Linked DNA regions of Homo sapiens: regions 1, 2 and 3 are each linked to region 4. Evidence: fine-mapped expression QTL. A gene starts in region 4. Each other region holds a variant in brackets. All regions are shown on one strand. Distances are from middle to middle. Region 1 overlaps TDRD5 (tudor domain containing 5). Region 2 overlaps AXDND1 (axonemal dynein light chain domain containing 1). Region 3 overlaps ABL2 (ABL proto-oncogene 2, non-receptor tyrosine kinase). Region 4 holds the start of ABL2 (ABL proto-oncogene 2, non-receptor tyrosine kinase).

The links. PIP is the estimated chance that this variant, and not a neighbour inherited with it, causes the effect.
Region 1: its variant is fine-mapped to the expression of ABL2 in whole blood (TOPMed, PIP 0.95).
Region 2: its variant is fine-mapped to the expression of ABL2 in whole blood (TOPMed, PIP above 0.99).
Region 3: its variant is fine-mapped to the expression of ABL2 in neutrophils (BLUEPRINT, PIP 0.95).

Annotation. Positions count from the first base shown.
Region 1 is chr1:179,655,277-179,660,427 of GRCh38, reverse strand. All of the region lies in intron 14 of TDRD5 (tudor domain containing 5), which reads right to left. Among named protein-coding and RNA genes, the nearest start is that of TDRD5, 66 kb to the right of the region's middle. The variant T/C (reference allele first, on the strand shown) is at 2,609.
Region 2 is chr1:179,451,799-179,456,949 of GRCh38, reverse strand. All of the region lies in intron 16 of AXDND1 (axonemal dynein light chain domain containing 1), which reads right to left. It also overlaps the pseudogene HNRNPA1P54. Among named protein-coding and RNA genes, the nearest start is that of AXDND1, 88 kb to the right of the region's middle. The variant G/A (reference allele first, on the strand shown) is at 2,540.
Region 3 is chr1:179,119,870-179,125,020 of GRCh38, reverse strand. ABL2 (ABL proto-oncogene 2, non-receptor tyrosine kinase) reads left to right here. Exons shown (of 12, transcript NM_007314.4): 5 at 3,154-3,426; 6 at 4,747-4,831. Among named protein-coding and RNA genes, the nearest start is that of TOR3A, 40 kb to the right of the region's middle. The variant TA/A (reference allele first, on the strand shown) is at 2,744.
Region 4 is chr1:179,227,685-179,232,835 of GRCh38, reverse strand. It overlaps ABL2 (ABL proto-oncogene 2, non-receptor tyrosine kinase), which reads left to right and starts at 3,159. Exons shown (of 12, transcript NM_007314.4): 1 at 3,159-3,595. The coding sequence starts at 3,439. RefSeq lists a silencer at 3,244-3,653 and an enhancer at 3,109-3,865.

The sequences.
Region 1 (5,151 bases), 430 kb before region 4:
TAACACGGTGAAACCCCGTCTCTACTGAAAATAAAAAAAAATTAGCCAGGTGTGCTGGTGGGTGCCTGGAGTCCCAGCTACTCGGGAGGCTGAGGCAGGAGAATGGCGTGAACCTGAGAGGCAGAGCTTGCAGTGAGCCGAGATTGTGCCACTGCACTCCAGCCTGGGCAACAGAGCAAGACTCTGTCTCAAAAAAAAAAAAAAAAAAAAAAAAAACCATAGTAGATAAAATGGAATACTAAAAAATGTTCAAATAACCTAAGAGAAGGCAAGAAAGAGGAGGCAGATGAATGAAAATCAGGGGAACAAACAGAAAAATAAAATGGCAGATCTAAAATAAAAACATATATATAATCACATTAAACATAAATAGTCCAAACCATACTAATTAAAATTCAGATTGTCAGAGTGGATTAAAAAATAATCAAACAAGGCTGAGCACAGTGGCTCATGCCTGTAATCCCAGCACTTTGGGAGGCCAAGGTGGGCAGATCATCTGAGGTCGGGAGTTCAAGACCAGCCTGACCAACATGGAGAAATCCCATCTCTATTAAAAATACAAAATTAGCCGGGCATGGGGCGCACACCTGTAATCCCAGCTACTCAGGAGGCTGAGGCAGGAGAATTGCTTGAACCCAAGAGGTGGAGGTTGTGGTGAGCTGAGATCATGCCATTGCACTCCAGCCTGGGAAACAAGAGCAAAACTCCGTCTCAAAAAAATAAATTAAATAAATAAATAAATAATCAAACTATATGCTGTCTCAAGAAACTTACTTCAAATATAATGACACAGGTAGGTTAGAAGGATGGAAAAAAATATACCAGGCAAGCGCGCGCACACACACACACACACACACACACACACACACACACACACGAAAACTGGAATGGCTATACTGATATCAGTGCATTATGTACACTTCAGTGCAAAAAAAGTAATTGTGAATAAAGACATTTCATAATGATAAAAGGGTCAATTCACCAAGACATGTAAGAATCCTAAATGGATAACACCTAACAATAGAGCTTCAAAATGCACAACAGAAAAACTGACAGAATGAAAGGAGAAATAGACAAAATCCAAGATTACAGTTACAGACTTCAGTGTTCTTCTCAGTAATCAACAAAATCGGTAGATAGCAAGGATCAGAAGAACTGAACAATACCACTAATCAATTGGATCTGACATTTATAGAAACTCCACCAAACAACAGAATACATGTTTTTTTCAAAGACACATGGACATTTACCAAGCTAGACCACATCCTGTGTTGACAAAACAAACCTTAACAAATTTAAAGAACTGAAATCATACTGTGTTCTAAGACCATACTATACTGGAAAGACGTAACAGGAAGTTAACATGAAAATTTCCAAACACTTGGAAATTAAACAACACACTTCCAAATAATTCATGGGTGAAAGATAATATCTCAAAATAAACTATAAAATATTTGAACTGAATGAAAATGAAAATACAATATGTTCAAATTTGTGAAATGCAGCTAAAGTGATATGTAGAGACTCATAGCATCAATGCTTATATTAGAAAAGAAAGGTCTCAAATCAATAAAGTAAACTTCCATCTTAAAGAAATAGAAAAAGAAAGCAAAAATAAACCCAAAGAAAATAAAAGAAAGAAATCAACGAACTTGAAAACAGAAAGACAAGAGATAAAACCAGTGACACCAAAAGCTTATTCTCTAGGAATGGGAAGTTCAATAAAATGGATAAATCTCTAGTAAGACTAATGAAAAGGGGAGAAGACAAACTGCCAATATCAGAAATGTAATAGGAGATTATCATTGCAGACCCTGCAGATAACAAAAGGATAATAAGGGAATACTATAAACAATGTTATACATATAGTTGACAACTTAGATGAAGTGAACCAATTCCTCATTTGATAACTTAAATGAGTCACTTCCTCAAAAACCACAAAATACCAAGACTAAGATAAAATAGCTGATTTGAATAATCTTATATCTACTAAAGCAATTGATTTTATAATTTAAATTCTTCTGGAAAAAAGTCTCCAGGCCCAGATAGTTTTATAAGGTAATATCAAACATTTTAAAAATTAACTTCTCTCCCTGAAAAATAACCTGATTTTATGTAACCTTTTCCAGAAAATAGATGAGCGAATACTTCCAACTCATTTTATTAGGACAGTATCAACCTGTACAAAGTGTACATCAATAAACAAATAAAGAAAACGTGGTATATATACACAATGTAACAATATTCAACCTTTAAAAAGAAGGAAATCTTGTAATTTGTGACAAAATGGATGAACCAGGAGGACATTATGTTACATGAAAGAAGCCAGATACAGAAAGAGGAATAACACATGATCTCACTTACATGTGGAATCTAAAAAAGCAGAGTGAAATAGTAGTTACCAGAGGCTAGGAGGTGGAGGGATTGGGCAGATGTTGGTCAAAGGACACAAAATTTCAGTAGACAGGAGGAGTAAGTTCAAGAGATCTGCTATACATCTTGGTAACTACAGTTAATAGTGACATATTGTATACTTAAAAATTGCCAGGAGAGTAGATTTTAAGTGTTTTCACCACAAAAAAATAACAAATATGTGAGGTAATGCATA[T/C]GCTAAATAGCTTGACTTATACATGCTACAGTGTATACATATATTGAAACATGTTGTACACCATATATGCAATTTTACTTAATTAAAAAAACTAAGAAAATAAAGATCCACACAAACAACAAAAATAAATAAAAAGGAAATACAATTCTACATAATCTTTCCCAGAAAACAGCAAAGCGGGCAATATATTCAGATTTATTTTATGAGGCCAGGATTATCCAGTATAAAAACCAAAGACAATACAAGAAAACTACAGACCAATATCTCATGAAAACAGATATCCATTTGCATGTACTAACGCAGACAACATTACTGATACAGAAAATCACAAAAGAAACCAACAAAACACCCCCTAGAATGGATAAGTGAAGTTAGGTAGTTCAAAAAAACACCAATTTCTATATACTAGCAATTAAAATACAAAAACTGGGGAAAACATTTATAATAGCTCTCAAAATAAGTGAAATACTTAGGTATAAAATTAACAGAACATGTACAGATCCTGTATACTGAAAATTATAACACTGTTGAAGAAATAAAAGAAAACCTAAATAAATGGGGAGATACACCATGTTCATGGACTAAAGCATCAACTTTCCTCAAAATTATCTATATATATAACACAACTCCAATCAAAATCTCAGGTATAGATAAGCTGATTCTAAAATTTACAAGGAAAGAAAAAGGAACCAAAATATTAAAAACAATTTTGAAAAAGTATAAAATAGGAGGAATCATACTACCTGATTTTTTCTTTTTCTTGAGACAGAGTTTTGCTCTTGTCGTCCAGGCTGGAGTGCAATGGTGTGATCCCAGCTCACTGCAACCTCCCTCTGTCTTCCGGGTTCAAGCAATTCTCCTGTCTCAGTCTCCTAAGTAGCTGGGATTACAGGTGCCCACCACCACACTCGGCTAGTTTTTGTATTGTTTAGTAGAGACAGGGTTTTGCCATGTTGGCCAGGCTGGTCCTGAACTCCAGACCTCAGGTAATCCACCCACCTTGGCCTCCCAAAGTGCTAGGATTATAGGCATGAGCCACTGCGCCCAGCCCATACTACCTGATTTTAAGAGGTACTATGTAAGTCTACAGTAATCAAGACAATGTGGTAGTGATGAAGAGACAAACATATAGGTCACTGGAGAAGAATATAGAGTCTAGAAATAGACTTACAGAAATATGGACAATTGATTTTTGATAAGGCTTCAAAGACAATTCAATGGAGATAGGATAGTCTTGTCAACAAAGGATGCTGGATCAGTTGGACATCCACATGTAACAAAATGAAACCTAACCTAAATTTCATGCCTTATACTAAAATTAACTCAAGATGTCTTGATACTGGAAACACTGTCCATAATAGAAAACAAGTTGATACGTTAGGTTTTTTCAAAATTAAAAACTTCTGTATGAAAGACACTATCAAGAGAATGAAAAGACAAGCTACAAGTGAGAAAATATTTTTGAAAATCACATTATTTGACAAAGAACTAGTATCCTGAATATATAAAGAACTCTCAAAACTCAAGAGTAAGAAAACAACCCAATCAAAAAAATGGGAAAAAGACTTCAACAGAAATTTCACCAAGAATTGTGTATAGATGACAACTAAGCACATGAAAAGATGTTCAACATCATTAATCACTGGAATTTAAAATCATGCTGTGATACTACTACACACCTATTAAAATGGCTAAAGCAAAATTACTGACAATGTCAAGTGCTGACAAGAAAATGGAGCAACTGGAACTCATATATTATTGCTGGTGAAAATTCAAAATGGTACAGCCACTCTGGAAAAAAGTTTGACATACACTTATCACATGACCCAGCAATCTTACTCCTGGGTATTTACCGTAGATAAATGAAGCTTATGTTCACACAAAAACCTGTACATGAATATTTATAGCAGCTCTATTCATAAATACCCCAAACTAGAAACAACCCAAATGTCCTTCAATGGGTGAATGGGTATACAAACTGTGGTGTATTTATCCTATAAAATACTATTCAGCAATCGAAAAGAACATATTATTGATACATGCAAGAGCATGGATGAATCTCAAAGGTACAGAAATATACTGAATGAAAGAAGCCAGTCTCCAAAGGTTACATACTATATGATTCTACTTACATGACAGTCCTGAAAAGGTAAAACTAGAGTGACAGAAAACAGACCCCAGACCAGTTGCTAGGGGTTAGGGATGTGGGGAGACTGTGATTACAAAGCAGTAGCACAAGGGAGTTATTTTAGATGATGGAGCTGTTCTGCATCCCAATTGCAGTGTTGGTTACACAAATCTACACATTTATTAAAGTTGATAGAATAGTACACCAAAACAGTCAATTTTACTATGTGTTAATTTATAAAAGGAAAGAAATATTAACATGAAAAAAAGTTATGCAAGGGAAAAAAAGGTGTAACAGTGTACTATAATACTTGGCCAAGCCGTGAAGAGCATTTACATAGTCACAGTAATGTAAACATTGAATAGTGATCTGATGGAAAGTTTGATATACTATATCAGTAACATGGTAGGGGGAA
Region 2 (5,151 bases), 220 kb before region 4:
AAAAAATGAAGTGATTGAAATCATGACTGAGGCAGTGGCAAGAAAAGAGGCTTTGCCTTTGTAACCTTTGACAATCATAACTCCATGGATAAAACTGTCATTCAGAAATAGCATACTGTGAATGGCCACAACTGTGAAGTTAGGAAAGCCCTGTCAGACCAAGAGATGGCTAGGGCTTCATCCAGCCAAAGAGGTCAAAGTAGTTCTGGAAACTTTGGTGGTGGTCATGGAGGTGGTTTCAGTGGGAATGACAACTTTGGTCACGGAGGAAACTTCAGTGGTCATGATGGCTTTGGTGGCAGCTGTGGTGGTGATGGATATGGTGGCAGTGGGGATGGCTATAATGGGTTTGGTAATGATGGTGGTTATGGAGGAGGTGGCCCTGGTTACTCCGGAGGAAGCAGAGGCTATGGAAGTGTTGGACAGGGTTATGGAAGCCAGGGCAGTGGCTATGGTGGGAGTGGCAGCTATAATAGCTATAACAACGGAGGTGGAGGCAGCTTTGGTGGTGGTAGTGGAAGCAGTTTTGGAGGTAGTGGAAGCTACAATGATTTTGGCAATTACAACAATCAGTCTTCAAATTTTGGACCCACGAAGGGAGGAAACTTTGGAGGCAGAAGTTCTGTCCCCTGTGGTGGTGGAGGCCAATACTTCGTCAAACCACAAAACCAAGGTGGCTATGGAGGTTCCAGTAGCAGCAGTAGCTATGACAGTGGCAGATTTTAATTAGGAAACAAAGCTTAGCAGGAGAGGAGATCCAGAGAAGTGACAGGGAAGCTACAGGTTACAACAGATTTGTGAACTCAGCCAAGCACAGTGGTAGCAGGGCCTAGGTGCTACAAAGAAGACATATTTTAGACAAATACTGATGAGTATGGGCAAAAAACTCGAGGACTGTTATTTGTGACTAACTCTATAACAGGTTATTTTAGTTTGTGTTCTGTGAAAAGTGTAAAGCATTCCAACAAAGGGTTTTAATGTAGTTTTTTTTTTTTGGCACCCATGCTGTTGATTGCTAAATGTAATAGTCTGATTGTGATGCTGAATAAATGTCTTTAAAAACAAAACAAAACAAAACAAACTATGTCTTAAACTAAATAATAAAAATTATGCAAAACATGGGATGCAGCCAAAGCTGGCTTCTTATGACTCAATTCTATTGGGTTTCCTCCTACTTCTATTGTCCTACTATCTCTCGTTACCCTTTAAAATGTTGGGGATCCATTCTTAGTCCTTAGTTATTCCCATTGTATATTTCCCCCCCAAGGTGATCTCATCAAAATTCATGGCTTTAACTAACACATATACTAGTATCTTCCAAAATTTTTTTTTTAATTTTTTTTTTTTTTTTTTTTTGAGACGGAGTCTCACTCTGTCGCCCAGGCTGGAGTACAGTGGCGCGATCTCAGCTCACTGCAAGCTCTGCGTCCCGGCTTCACGCCATTCTCCTGCCTCAGCCTCCAGAGTAGCTGGGACTACAGGCGCCCACCACCAAGCCCGGCTAATTTTTTTTGTATTTGTAGTAGAGACGGAATTTCACGGTGTTAGCCAGGATGGTCTTGATCTCCTGACCTCGTGATCCGCCCACCTCGGCCTCTCAAAGTGCTGGGATTACAGGCGTGAGCCACCGCACCCAGCCTCTTTTTTTTTTTTTACTTTTTTTTTTTTTTTTTTTGAAACAGAGTCTCACTCTCTCCCCTAGGCTGGGGTGCAAGGGTGCAATCTCTGCTCACTGCAAACTCTGCCTCCCGGGTTCAAGCGATTCTCCCGCCTCAGCCTCCTGAATAGTGGGGATTACAGGCATGTGCCACCATGACCAGCGCTAATTTTTTTCTTTTTTCTTTTTTTTTTTTTGAGACGGAGTCTCATTCTGTCGCCCAGGCGGGAGTGCAGTGGCACGATCTCCGCTCACTGCAAACTCCACCTCCTGGGTTCACGCCATTCTCCTGCCTCAGCTTCCAGAGTAGCTGGGACTACAGGCGCCTGCCACCACGCCCGGCTAAGTTTTTTGTATTTTTGGTAGAGATGGGATTTCACCATGTTAGCCAAGATGGTCTCAAACCACTGACCTCAGGTGACCCACCTGCCTCGGCCTCCCAAAGTGCTAGAATTATAGGTTTGAGCCACCGTGCCTGGCGTCTTCCAAAATTTCATCCAAGATTTTTCTCCCACATTCCTGACATGCCTGTTGAACAAGTCCACTTAATTGTGCCATAGCTACTCGAAAGTCAGTATGTCTAATACTAAATACACAATCTCCCTTCCCCATACTTTTCCTTCTCCTGTATTCTCTAATCTTAATAAATTGGATGACCCATTTACAGTCCAATCAGGAACACAGCCATCCCACAATACTCTCTCTCACACACACAATTGTGTAGCCTACATTTTTTAAATCTCTTATTTTTCTTTCCTCTTCTCCATTCCCATGTCTTAGGATAGGTCCTCATCATTTCTCAACTTATTCCTGTAGTAGATTCCTGTATTAGTCCATTTTCATGCTGCTAATAAAGACATACCCGAGACTGGGCAATTCACA[G/A]AAGAAAGAGGTTTAATGGACTTACAGTTCCACGTGGCTGTGGAGGCCTCACAACCATAGCAGAAGGTGAAAGGCATGTCTCACATGGAGGTAGACAAGAGAAGAAAGCTTGTGTAGGGAAACACCCCATTATAAAACCATCAGATCTCATGAGACTTATTCCCTACCATGAGAACAGCATGGGAAAGACCTGCTCCCATGATTCAATTACCTCCCACTGGGTCCCTCCCACAACACATGGGAATTCAAGATGAGATCTGGGTGGGGACACAGCCAAACCATATCATTCTGTCCCTGGCCCCTCCCAAATCTCCACACTTCAAAACCAACCATGCCTTCCCAACAGTCCCCCCAAAGTCTTAATTCATTTCAGCATTAACTTAAAAGTCCACATTCCAAAGTCTCATCTGAAACAAGACCAGTCCTTTCTGCCTATGAGCCTGTAAAATCAAAAGCAAGTTAGTCACTTCCTAGACACGAAGGGGGTACAGGCATTGGGTAAATACAGGCATTCTAAATGGGAGAAATTGGCCAAAACAAAGGGCCTACAAGCCCCATGCAAATCCAAAATCTAGCAGGAGAGTCCATTTTTTTTTTTTTTTTTTTTTTTGAGACAGAGATTTGCTCTTCTTGCCCAGGCTGGAGTGCAACGGTGCGATCTTGGCTCACTGCAACCTCTGCCTCCCAGGTTCAAGTGACTCTCCTGCCTCGGCCTCCTGAGTAGCTGAAACTACAGGTGCATGCCACCACGACTGGCTAATTTTGTACTTTTAGTAGAGATAGAGTTTCACCATGTTGGCCAGGCTGGTCTCAAACTCCTGACCTCAGGTGATCCGCCTGCCTCAGCCTCCCAAAGTGCTGGGATTACAGGCATGAGCCACTGTGCCTGGACAGCAGTCAAATCTTAAAGGTCCAAAATGACCTTCTTTGACTCCACGTGTCACATCCAGGTCATGCTGATGCAAGAGATGGGCTCCCATGGTCTTGGGCAGCTCCACCCCTGTGGTTTTGTGCGGTACAGCCTCCCGGCTGCTTTCATGGTCTGGCAATGAGTGTCTGTGGCTTTTCCAGGTGCATGGTGAAAACTGTTGGTGGATCTACCATTCTGGGGTCTGGAGGACAGTGGCCCTCTTCTCATAACTCCACTAGGCTGTGCCCCAGTAGAGACTCTGTGTGGGGTCTCTGACCCCACATTTCCCTGCTGCACTTCCCTAGCAGAGGTTTTCCATGAGGGCCCTGCCCCTGCAGCAAACTTCTGCCTGGGCATCCAGGCGTTTCCATACATCCTCTGAAATCTGGGTGGAGGTTCCCAAACCCCAGTTCTTGACTTCTGTACACCCGCAGGTTCAATACCACATGGAAGCTGCCAAGGCTTGAGGCTTGCACCCTCTGAAGCCACAGCCTGAGCTCTATGTTGGCCCCTTTCAGCCACAGCTAGAGCAGCTGGGACACAGGGCACCAAATCCCTAGGCTACTCACAGCATGGGGACCCTGGACCCAGCCCACGAAACCATTTTTACCTCCTAGGCCTCCAGGCTTATGATGGGAAGGGGCTGCCATGAAGACCTATGACATGCCCTGAAGACATTTTCCCCATGGTCTCGGGGGATTAACAGTTGGCTCCCCATTACTTAAGTAAATTTCTGCAGCCAGCTTGACTTTCTCCTCAGAAAATGGGATTTTCTTTTCTTTTTTTTTTTTTTTTTTTTTTTTTTTGAGACGGAGTCTCGCTCTGTCGCCCAGGCCGGACTGCGGACTGCAGTGGCGCAATCTCGGCTCACTGCAAGCTCCGCTTCCCGGGTTCACGCCATTCTCCTGCCTCAGCCTCCCGAGTAGCTGGGACTACAGGCGCCCGCCACCGCGCCCGGCTAATTTTTTGTATTTTTAGTAGAGACGGGGTTTCACCTTGTTAGCCAGGATGGTCTCGATCTCCCGACCTCATGATCCACCCGCCTCGGCCTCCCAAAGTGCTGGGATTACAGGCGTGAGCCACCGCGCCCGGCGGGATTTTCTTTTCTATCGCATTGTCAGGCTGCAAATTTTACAAACTTTTATGCTCTGTTTCCCTTTTAAAACTGAATGCCTTTAACAGCACTCAAGTCACCTCTTGAATGCTTTGTTGCTTAGAAATTTATTCTGCCAGATACCCTAAATCATCTCTCTCAAGTTCAAAGTTCCACAAATCTCTAGGATGGGGCAAAATGCTGCCAGTCCCTTTGCTAAAATATAACAAGAGTCACCTTTGCTCCAGTTCCCAAGAAGTTCCTCATCTCCATCTGAGACCACCTTAGCCTGGATTTCATTGTCCATATCATTATTAGCATCTTGTTCAAAGCCATTCAACAAGTCTCTAGGGAGTTTCAAACTTTCCCACATTTTCCTGTCTTCTTCTAAGCCCTCCAAACCATTTCAACTTCTGCCTGTTACCCAGTTCCAAAGTCGCTTCCACATTTTCAGGTATCTTTTCAGCAGCACCCTACTCTACTGGTACCAATTTACTGTATTAGTCCATTTTCATTCTGCTGATAAAGACATACTCAAGACTGAATAATTTATATGGGAAAAGGGGTTTATTGGACTTATAGTTCCATGCGGCTGGGGAAGCCTCATAA
Region 3 (5,151 bases), 110 kb after region 4:
ATTAGCCAGGGGATGAGGATGTGGGGAGTGGGAAGGACTCCTAATAGATATGAGGTAATGAGAATGTTCTAGAGTTAGATAGTCATGATGGTTGGACAACTTTGAGAATATGCTAAAAACCATGAAATGGTATACCTTAAAATGATGAATTTTATGGTATCTGAAATATAATGCAATTTTTAAAAGTTGGGTGGAAAAAAGCAGACATAAAACAATACATATTGTGTGATTCTGTTTGTGTATAGTTCAGAAGCAGAGGCCAGGCATGGTGGCTCACACCCGTAATCCCAGCACTTTGGGAGGCCGAGGTGGGCCTCATCACTGGAGGTCAGGATGTCAGCCCCACAAACATGGTGAAACCCTGTCTCTACTACAAATACAAAAATTGGCCTGGCATGGTGGCACGCGACTGTAATCCCAGTTACTCAGGAGGCTGAGGCAGGAGAATTGGTTGAACCTGGGAGGTGGAGGTTGTAGTGAGCCAAGATCGTGCCACTGCACTCCAGCCTGGGCAACAGAGCGAGACTCTGTCTCAAAAAAAAAAAAAAAAAAAAAAGCAGAAGCTAATCTAAGATGTTAGAAGTCAGCATAGTGGCTATCTCTGCAAGGGCAAATAGCTGGAGAGCATAAGGGAGGCTTCTGGGGTGCTGATCATGTTATAATTCTTGGTGTGGGTGATGTTTACATGGGTGAGTTTACTTTGTAAAAATTATCAATTTTCTGTTTATGAATTGATACTTTATACACTAAAACAAAAGCTTCTTTTTTTTTTTTTCTTTTGAGATGGAGTCTTGCTGTGTCGCCCCGGCTGGAGTGCAGTGGCGCGATCTCGGCTTACTGCAAGTTCCGCCTCCCAGGTTCACGCCGTTCTCCTGCCTCAGCCTCCTCAATAGCTGGGACTACAGGCGCCCACCACCACGCCCGGCTAATTTTTTGTATTTTTAGTAGAGACGGTGTTTCACCATGATAGCCAGGATGGTCTCGATCTCCTGACCTCGTGATCCACCCGCCTTGGCCTCCCAAAGTGCTGGGATTACAGGCGTGAGCCACTGCGCCCGACCAAAAGCGTCTTTAAAAAAAATAAATAACAGGCTAGGCATGGTGGCCTATGCCTGTAATCCCAACACTTGGGGAGGCCAAGGAGGGTAGATCACTTGAGCCCAGGAGTTCAAGACCAGCTTGAGGAATATAGTGAAACCTCATCTCTACAAAAAATTTTAAAAATTAGCTGGGCATGGTGGCATATGTCTGTGGTCCTAGCTACTCGGGAAGCTGAGGCAGGAGGATCACCTGAACCTGGGAGGTCAAGGCTGCAGTGAGTCATGATTGTGTCACTGCACTCCAGGCCGGGCAACCGAGTGAGACCCTTATTTCTCAAAAATACATAAAAATTAAGGCTCCCTTGGGAGAGAAGTCCAGAGAATTCCCTCTTACTTTACATTTCTTATTGCTTAGCAAATTAACAACTATTTTGTAAGCAATTCTGTGAAATCCAGTGTGGCTCTTTTCTTTTTTTTAGATGGAGTCTTGCTCTGTCACCCACTCTAGAATGCAGTGGCGTGATCTCAGCTCACTGCAACCTCCACCTCCCAGGTTCAAGCAATCCTCCCACCTCAGCCTCCCAAGTAGCTGGGACTGCAGGCACGCACCACCAAGCCTGGCTAATTTTTGTATTTTTAGTAGAGAGGAGGTTTCACCATGATGGCCAAGCTGGTCTCAACTCTTGACCTCAAGTGACCTGCCCACCTCAGCCTCCCAAAGTGCTGGGATTGCAGGTGTGAGCCACTGCTCCTGGCCACCGGTAAATTGTGGCTCTTTCTTTAATGGCCTAGACACTCAACTGCACGTCATAATTAAAATTATGAGATATTTGAATACTCTTACCAAAAAAATCTAAATCAGTGGTTTTCAAGTTATGTTTTTTACAAGATTAAGGTGATATTTTGTAAATTTCTACAAGAGGCCAAGTCCTTGCTTGCCTACTTTGATCAGGGTATCTCTTCTTTACGTATCTTCTGTAGTTGAGTCCATAGTCTTGTGGCTTAAAAATATTTGAAGACTGGCCGGGCGTGGTAGTTCACACCTGTAATCCCAGCAATTTGGGAGACTGAGGCAGGCAGATCACTTGAGGTTAGGAGTTCCTGACCAGCCTGGCTAACATGGTGAAACCCCATCTCTACTAAAAATACAAAGAAAAAAATTAGCCAGGCGTGATGGCGCATGCCTGTAATCCCAGGTACTTGGGAGGCTGAGGCAGGAGAATCACTTGAACCCAGGAGGCGGAGGTTGCAGTGAGCTGAGGTCATGACACTGCACTCCAGCCTGGGCAACAGAGTGAGACTCTGTCTCAAAAAAAAGAAAAAAAGAAAAAGAAATATATATTTGAAAAAATACATAATTTGAGTATATATATATTTGAAAATATATATATATTTGAAGACCAATGAGCTTGATTATCCAGAGAGAGATCTTGGAAGGTTTTTCCCAAGACTAATTTAGGAAGAATAGGAAAGGCAGATTAAATAAGATTAAACTGAAGTTCTGTGTTTACCCTTGCAATCATCATTTAACTTTTTTATTTACCTCAATTAAGATAAACTCTTGCTGGGTATACTGGCCCAGTCTGTAATCTCAGCACCTTGGGAGGCCCAGGCAGGAGGATTGCTTGAGGCTGGCGTTTGAGACCTGCCTGGGCAATAGTGAGACCCTGTCTGCAGAATATTTTTTTTTTTTTTTTTTTTTT[TA/A]AAGATAGCCTTCTATCTATATCTTCAGGCCAGTGAAATATGGGCTTTAAAAAAGAATTCCTAGGCCGGGAGCGGTGGCTCATGCTTGTAATCCCAGCACTTTGGGAGGCTGAGGCCGGCAGATCACGAGGTCAGGAGATCAAGAACACGGTGAAACCCCATCTCTACTAAAAATACAAAAAATTAGCCGGGCATGGTGGCGGGCGCCTATAGTCCCACCTACTCAGAGAGGCTGAGGCAGGAGAATGGCGTGAACCCGGGAGGCGGAGCTTGCAGTGAGCCGAGATCGCGCCAGTGCACTCCAGCCTGGGTGACAGAACAAGACTCCATCTCAAAAAAAAAAAAAAAAAAAAAAAAAAAATTCTTAATCTCTTTTCAAGTTGTTTAGCTTTTCTCCTTTTCTTACCAGGTGTATGTGACTGCTGAGAGCCGCTTCAGCACCTTGGCAGAGCTTGTACACCATCACTCCACAGTGGCTGATGGGCTGGTGACAACATTACACTACCCAGCACCCAAGTGTAATAAGCCTACAGTCTATGGTGTGTCCCCCATCCACGACAAATGGGAAATGGAGCGAACAGATATTACCATGAAGCACAAACTTGGGGGCGGTCAGTATGGAGAGGTTTACGTTGGCGTCTGGAAGAAATACAGCCTTACAGTTGCTGTGAAAACATTGAAGGTGGGTTGCTGAGAATTACAGTTTTCAGGCATCTTTTTCTTTTGTGCTCAATCACTTGGAAATATCAGCATGCCCTTCTTTAACTTTGGAACACTTTCCACCCACTAGTGCCAAGCACATCAGCAAATTGAGATGATTAACCCTAGTGCCATTGCTGACAATGCAGAGGTAGATTATTCACTGCAATGCAGTGAAACCCACATGTGGGAAAGGTCTGTCTCTGGAGGCTGTTGATGTAGATCTTAGTGGGAGGTTAGAAGCAAATTAAAAGTTATAAAAGCAAAATAAGCTCTTTTGCTTCCTGAGAACGACCCCTGCTGGACAGAATTCTTGTCTGAGAGTCATGGGCCTCTTTCTTGTTCTGTCCTTTCTCTCCCTTGTTCTTGTTCCTCCTGTCTCTTTGCAGTTAGATCACTTCTTAATATTAACAGAAATCTTTTTCGTAGTACTACTATATGTCTCCTTTAAACATCCCAGTATCAAATTATAAGGTTTTCACTCACTTGATTCTCCCAGAGCCTCAGTAACTGTCTCTGGTGTATCACTTATAAGGGCTATTCTTTAGCTATTAAGTAGTAGTCAGTTCTGTTTCTTAAGCATATTCTGAGTGTGAAGCAATATATAAGGCCTTGCTCTCTAAGAAGATTATGATCTAAGCAAGAAGATAAGTATGTAAGCAGCTAAGTGCTCTGTCTCGTCATTCAAAGCCTGAGATATCTGGAGAAGTAAACTATGAGAGAACTGAACTATCCAATACAGGGCTCCTGTGTTTCAGTTGATTATAGGACACGATTGCTGAATTTTGCTCCTCCTGCTAATTTTTACTCCAGGGCATTTTTCTTTCTAAGTTGGACTTCTTAAAATAATAATTATTTCAGCTGGGCGTGGTGGCTCACACCTGTAATCCCAGCAATTTGGGGAGCTCAGGTGGGCGAATCACCTGAGGTCAGGAGAGCATCCTGGCCAACATTGCAAAACCCCGTCTCTACTAAAAATACAAAAAGTAGCCAGGCATGGTCGTGCATGCCTGTAATCCCAGCTACTTGGGAGGCTGAGCCAGGAGAATCGCTTGAGCCCAGGAAGCGGAGGTTGCAGTGAGATCACACCACTTCACCCCAACCTGGGTAACAGAGCGAGACCGTGTCTCAAAAAAATAAATTAAATTAAAATAATAATTATATCTTGTAATATGCTAAAATATTCAAAAGATAGTTTTTACTTTTAAAGCTGAAGCTTTATGATTGTGAGATGAATGAAATGATTTTAAGTTGAGGGTTTGTCCCTCTCGTTTTCTTCTTTCTTACCTTTCCCTTTTTCTAGGAAGATACCATGGAGGTAGAAGAATTCCTGAAAGAAGCTGCAGTAATGAAGGAAATCAAGCATCCTAATCTGGTACAACTTTTAGGTGAGGAACCTTGCCTGAACCATAGATTTCCTCCAAAAATGCTTGCCCTTTAACCCCTTGTTATCTCCAAATGCTTTTTTTTTTTCTTTTTAAATATAGAGACAGGGTCTCGCTCTGTTGTCCAGGCTGCTGTTGACGTGATACTTCCGCCTGGGCCTTTCAATATGTTGGGATTACAGGCATGAGCCACCATGCCCCGCCTTTTTTCCTCCCCCAAACCTTTCTTTTTAGTCACCATGGTGGAAGCTGCAGGTTTGAATCCACTTCAATAAATAGTTATTTTAATCAGTAGGTTCTGTGTTTAAAAATAGCCCAAGAAA
Region 4 (5,151 bases):
TAATTGGATAAAGTATGTATGCCTGCCATAGGAAAGGTGGAGGTTGGAGGAACAGGAGATGGAAGAACATTAGGCAATTATAATCCAGTTATCCTGGAAAATAACTTCGAAACACTAGGTGAAACGTTTATTTTGTTTATTTATTTATTTATTTATTTATTTTTGAGACAGAGACTCCCTCTGTCACCTAGGCTGGGGTGCAGTGGCGCAATCTCCTGTCACTGCAACTTCCGCCTCCTGGGCTCAAGCAATTCGCCTGCCTCAGGTTCCCCAGTAGCTGGGATTACAGGCACGCGCCCCCACGATTGGCTAGTTTTTGCATTTTTAGTAGAGACGGGGTTTCACCATATTGGCCTGACTGGTCTTAAACTCCTGACCTCAAGTGATCCGCCCACCTTGGCCTCCCAAAGTGCTGGGATTACAAACATGAGCCACTGTGCCCGGCCCATTAGGTGAAAATTTTAGACTTAAGACTTTGTACGTAATGAATGAGAGGGAGAGTGTGGTCAAAGCAATGAGAGAAGCAGTTTCTTTGAGTGAGTTGCTTGGTGCTAAAGGTGAGGAATCTCTAGGAAGAAAGGGCTAGTAGCGGGAGAAACCAGCGCAGAGATGCCTAAGCTAACACTGTGTCTTACATAACGCTGTTTATATAGATGAAGGGAAGAGGTAGATATGAGAGATACTGTAAAACTGTAAAAAGTATGGCAATAGCCTAGAAATGCAGACTGGTGAAGTCAGGGATTGGTGAGGCATTACTCACAAGCTCCTTCCTTCTGGAGAGAGTGGTGTTGCTCCTGTGATAAGGATGATGAGGATGAAGAGTATCTGTGTCTTCAGCACGCCTTACTGCTGTTGGTGATGTGTCTGATCTTTTATGCTGGCCTCTGGCCATTGCTCAAATTTATATATATATATATATATAAAATTTGAAAAAGTTAGGCTTGTAAAACCTAAAACCATTATGTTTTTTGTATTAATAGTATATGCATATATGACACCAGTTATATGCCAAATACTGTTTTAAGTACTATACATATATATTGACTAATTTAATTTTCACAATATTCCTATAAGGTAGATACTATTTGTTATCATCATCAGTTTACAGATAATGTACTGAGACACAAAAAGGTTATGTACTTTGCCCAGATCAAATAGTCCATAAGTATCAGGGCCAAGTTATGAACCCAAGCAGTCTGGCTTCAGAGCCCCTGCCCTTAGCCACTGCACTCTACTGCAGGCTGAGCAGCCCTTATCAGAAATGTTCGGACCACAAGTGTTTCAGATTTGGGAATATTTACACACACATAATGAGATATCTTGGGCATGCGACCCAAGTCTAAACACAAAATTCATTTATGTTTCATATACACCTTTATACACATAGCTTGAATGCAATTTAATACAATATTTTAAAAATTTTGTGCATGAAACAAAGTTTATGTTAAGTACTTACGTGAAATGTTCCACCTCTGGCATCATATTGGTGCTCAAAAAATTTCGAATTTTGCAGCATTTTGGATTTTCAGATTTGAGATGTTCAACCCATATATTCATCTATCTTTATATAGTATGCATGAATTAGCAGAGAAACCAAACCATTATCCCCAAATTAAAATTTTCTCCCATAATAAAAATCAAACAGTAAACCAAATTCCGGCTCTGTGACATCTTTATCCCTTTCGAATGAATTTTTTTCAGTAGTTGCAAACACTGGGAATTAGAAGAAAAGACAGGTATTTTAAACACAGGGAAACTTTAATCCAAATGGAAAGTTCATATTTTATCCAGTGTTTACACATAGTGTTTCCGTTCCCATTTTGGAGTTAATTTCAGTTATTTCTGGCTACACCCTAGATGGCAATGGAATAATTTCATAGTGCTTTTACAACAGGCAATATCTACGTCAGTGGATGGTTCATCTAAGGTCAACCTGGTTCAGGAAAGATATGCAAAGGAGAGCTTCATCCACCTCTTCTCCCAACCCTACATTTCCAGTGGTTGTTTTGTTCCTTCTTTGCAGTGGCTCCCGTCCTGTCTAATTTAAGCAAAATTTCAGTGTAGTACCTCCATTAACTGATACTTTTTATAAAGCAAATTGGGAAGCCAAAAGAATAACAGGAGAATGATCAAGATTTGAGAATTAAAAAAAATTGAATTAAGATGCAAGTAAACACAGTGGGAGAGGGGGATGGCGAGTCAATTGTATATAGTATATGTGTATGTATAAAACGCTTCTTTTCTGCCTCATTCACTCTCTTTAGACTGCATAAGCTAAAATGAGTAAGTTCTGACTCAGAAACAGGGTCAAAGATATATATTTTTTCTCCTTTGTCATCAAAAGAAGACCTGACCACGTGCACAGTGTATAAAGGATGCCAGTGGGAAGATTAACTTTACTGTCAGGCATTGTAAGGAAACAGAAACTCACATATGGTGAGATGGTAAAGGAGTTCAAGAGGAATTCATGGTAATATAATATGAGGAATGGGGCTACAATTGCGTCCCCAATGAGACTATAGAAGGCACACAATCCAGGCCAGTGCGATTTAACATCATGAAATAATCTCCAAAAATTAAAATCAAATAAGGTAGCATTTTACTCTCTTCTTGTAAATTTTATACCATTTTAATTTTTACTGGAGGCCTGCTGCTGACAAGGGTGTTTAAAAGAGATCCCCCTGGGTATTTTAGAGCTCCTTAACTGGATGGCAAGGACCAAATAAATGCCTTGTGCTTTTCTGCCCCACCTGTGCCTGCACCTGAGCTGCGCACGCGGTGGCACTGAGCCCTCGACTCACTCATTTGACAGGTGGAGGTGGGATGGGGAAGGCCGGAGACCGACCAACCCCAAAGGCGGTAGCGTGTGGAGCCGAACGCGGGAGGGGGTCGGCTGAGGCGGATTGAGGGGGGGGACGCCGAGGTGCGGCGACAGGACGCGGAGGACGAAAGACCTCAAGCAGCGGTGGCCGGCAAATGAGGTGGGCACTGGGGGACCCACCCTGCGAGGAGGCGGGGGCGGGGACGGGGGGCGCGGCGCGGCAGGGCGGGGCGGCAGCCGGGAAGCCCTCCTTCCCCGCGGCGGAGGTGACTGGCGGGCGGGGGGCGGGGGGCGGGGGGCGGGAGACGCTCTGTCCCACGCTTTCCCAGCGCTCGGTGGTTTAAAGATGGCGGCGGCGGTGGCGGCGGCGGCGGCGGCGGCGTTGGGGGCGCGGAGCCGCGACAGGAGGAGGGAAAAGCAGAATCTGTGAGTCGCCTGGAGGCAGCGCGGCGGCTGCCGTGAGGAGGCCGGGTGCGGAGCCGCCGGTGGCCCAGCCACTCAGGGCCAGGGCCTGGGCTGGGAGGGAGAGACCGGAGCAGCGCCAGGAGCCCGAGGCCGGAGCCGAGGAGGAATGTGACCAGGGGTCGGCGGGGGCGCGGGAGTACGCGAGAGCAGGGATGGGGCAGCAGGTGGGCCGCGTCGGGGAAGCTCCGGGGCTCCAGCAGCCTCAGCCCCGCGGGATCCGGGGCAGCAGTGCAGCCAGGCCCTCCGGCCGCAGGCGGGACCCGGCGGGGCGCACCACAGAGACCGGCTTCAATATCTTCACCCAGCATGGTGAGTGTGTCTGGGAGCCGGCATGAGAGCGTGGGGGAGGCCGGGGGTGGGGTCGGGGCGGGGTGGGTGGCGGACGGGCTGCCCGAGGGGTCGGAGGGTGGAAGGTGCCTGAGAGTGGGGGCGGAATCCGCTGCCATCTGGTCCAGTCCTGGGAGGCGAGTCACACCCCTCCCCCCTCGCGTCTCTAGCCTGGCTGGCAGATCCCGGGGGCGGAGAAGGAAAGAGAAGTGGGTTTGGGGACCCTGGATGGTCTGTCCTCTACTCTGGGACGGGACTATGCGGCTGCAGAAAGAAAGTGAATGGCAGCTTCAGGAGAGGGAAGGATGAAGGGCAGTATTAGCTCAGTCCCAGAGGTGGGAGCATAAACCCGTCGTTAGTGAAGGGGAAATGGGTTGTATCCTAAGGGATTGGGAAATGGGAACTGAATTTCAGGAGATTGTGGAGTACAAGGTATGTGTTTACGTTAGGTGATGAGCAGTGTCAGGATAGTGAACTGTGGACAGTGTCAAATGCTTTTCTGTAGGGAAGATGAAGTTAGCATCATCTTATCACTTTTGACATGCTTTTGTGGTTTATTTTGTTTTGTATTTCGTTTTTACTAGAAATGAAAGGCTTTGCCAAAGCCTCTGTACTATGCTTCAGAGTAGGACACACAATTCTGAGATTGCTGGCAAGGGCTAGAGGTTGGTGGGCATGGTTAGGACGTCAGTCAGGATATGAACAAGTTTTCCTTTGTAGTGTGTGCGTGTGCCCATATACATACATACATGTATGTATGCTCCCTGTAGTCTGAAACCTATTATTTTGATCTCATTGTCAATGTATTTTTAGAATAGTTGTCTCCAAACTTTTTTTGTCTTGTTTTTTTGTTTTGTTTTTGTTTTTGTTTTTTTTGAGACAGAGTCTCGCTTTGGTCCCCATGATGGAGTGCAATGGCGGGATGTCGGCTCACTGCAATCTCTGCCTCCCGGGTTCAAGTGATTCTCCTGCCTCAGCCTCCCGAGTAGCTGGAACTGCAGGTGTGCACCACCACGCCCGGCTAATTTTTGTATTTTTGGTGGTGGTGGGATTTTGTCATATACTCCTGACATCAGGTAATCTGCCTGCCTTGGCCTCTCAAAGTGCTGGGATTACGGGTGTGAGCCACCACCGTTCCTGGCCCAAACTCTTTTTTTTTTTTTTTTTTTTTTGGAGACGGAGTCTCATTCTGTCGCCCAGGCTGGAGTGCAGTGGCGTGATCTTGGCTCACTGCAACCTCTGCCTCCCAGGTTCAAGCGATTCTCCTGCCTCAGCCTCGGAGTAGCTGGGATTACAGGCGCCCGCCACCACACCCGGCTAATTTTTTGTGTTTTTAGTAGGGTGGGGTTTCTCTATGTTGGCCAGGCTGGTCTCGAACGCCTGACCTCATGATCCACCCGCCACAGCCTCCCAAAGTGCTGGGATTACAGGCGTGAGGCACTGCGCCTGGCCACATGTCTCCTATTGAAGATGTGCTTGAGTGTCTCTTTCGGGTATATGAACACTTTATGAAGGTGATATATGAGCTAATCTTTATT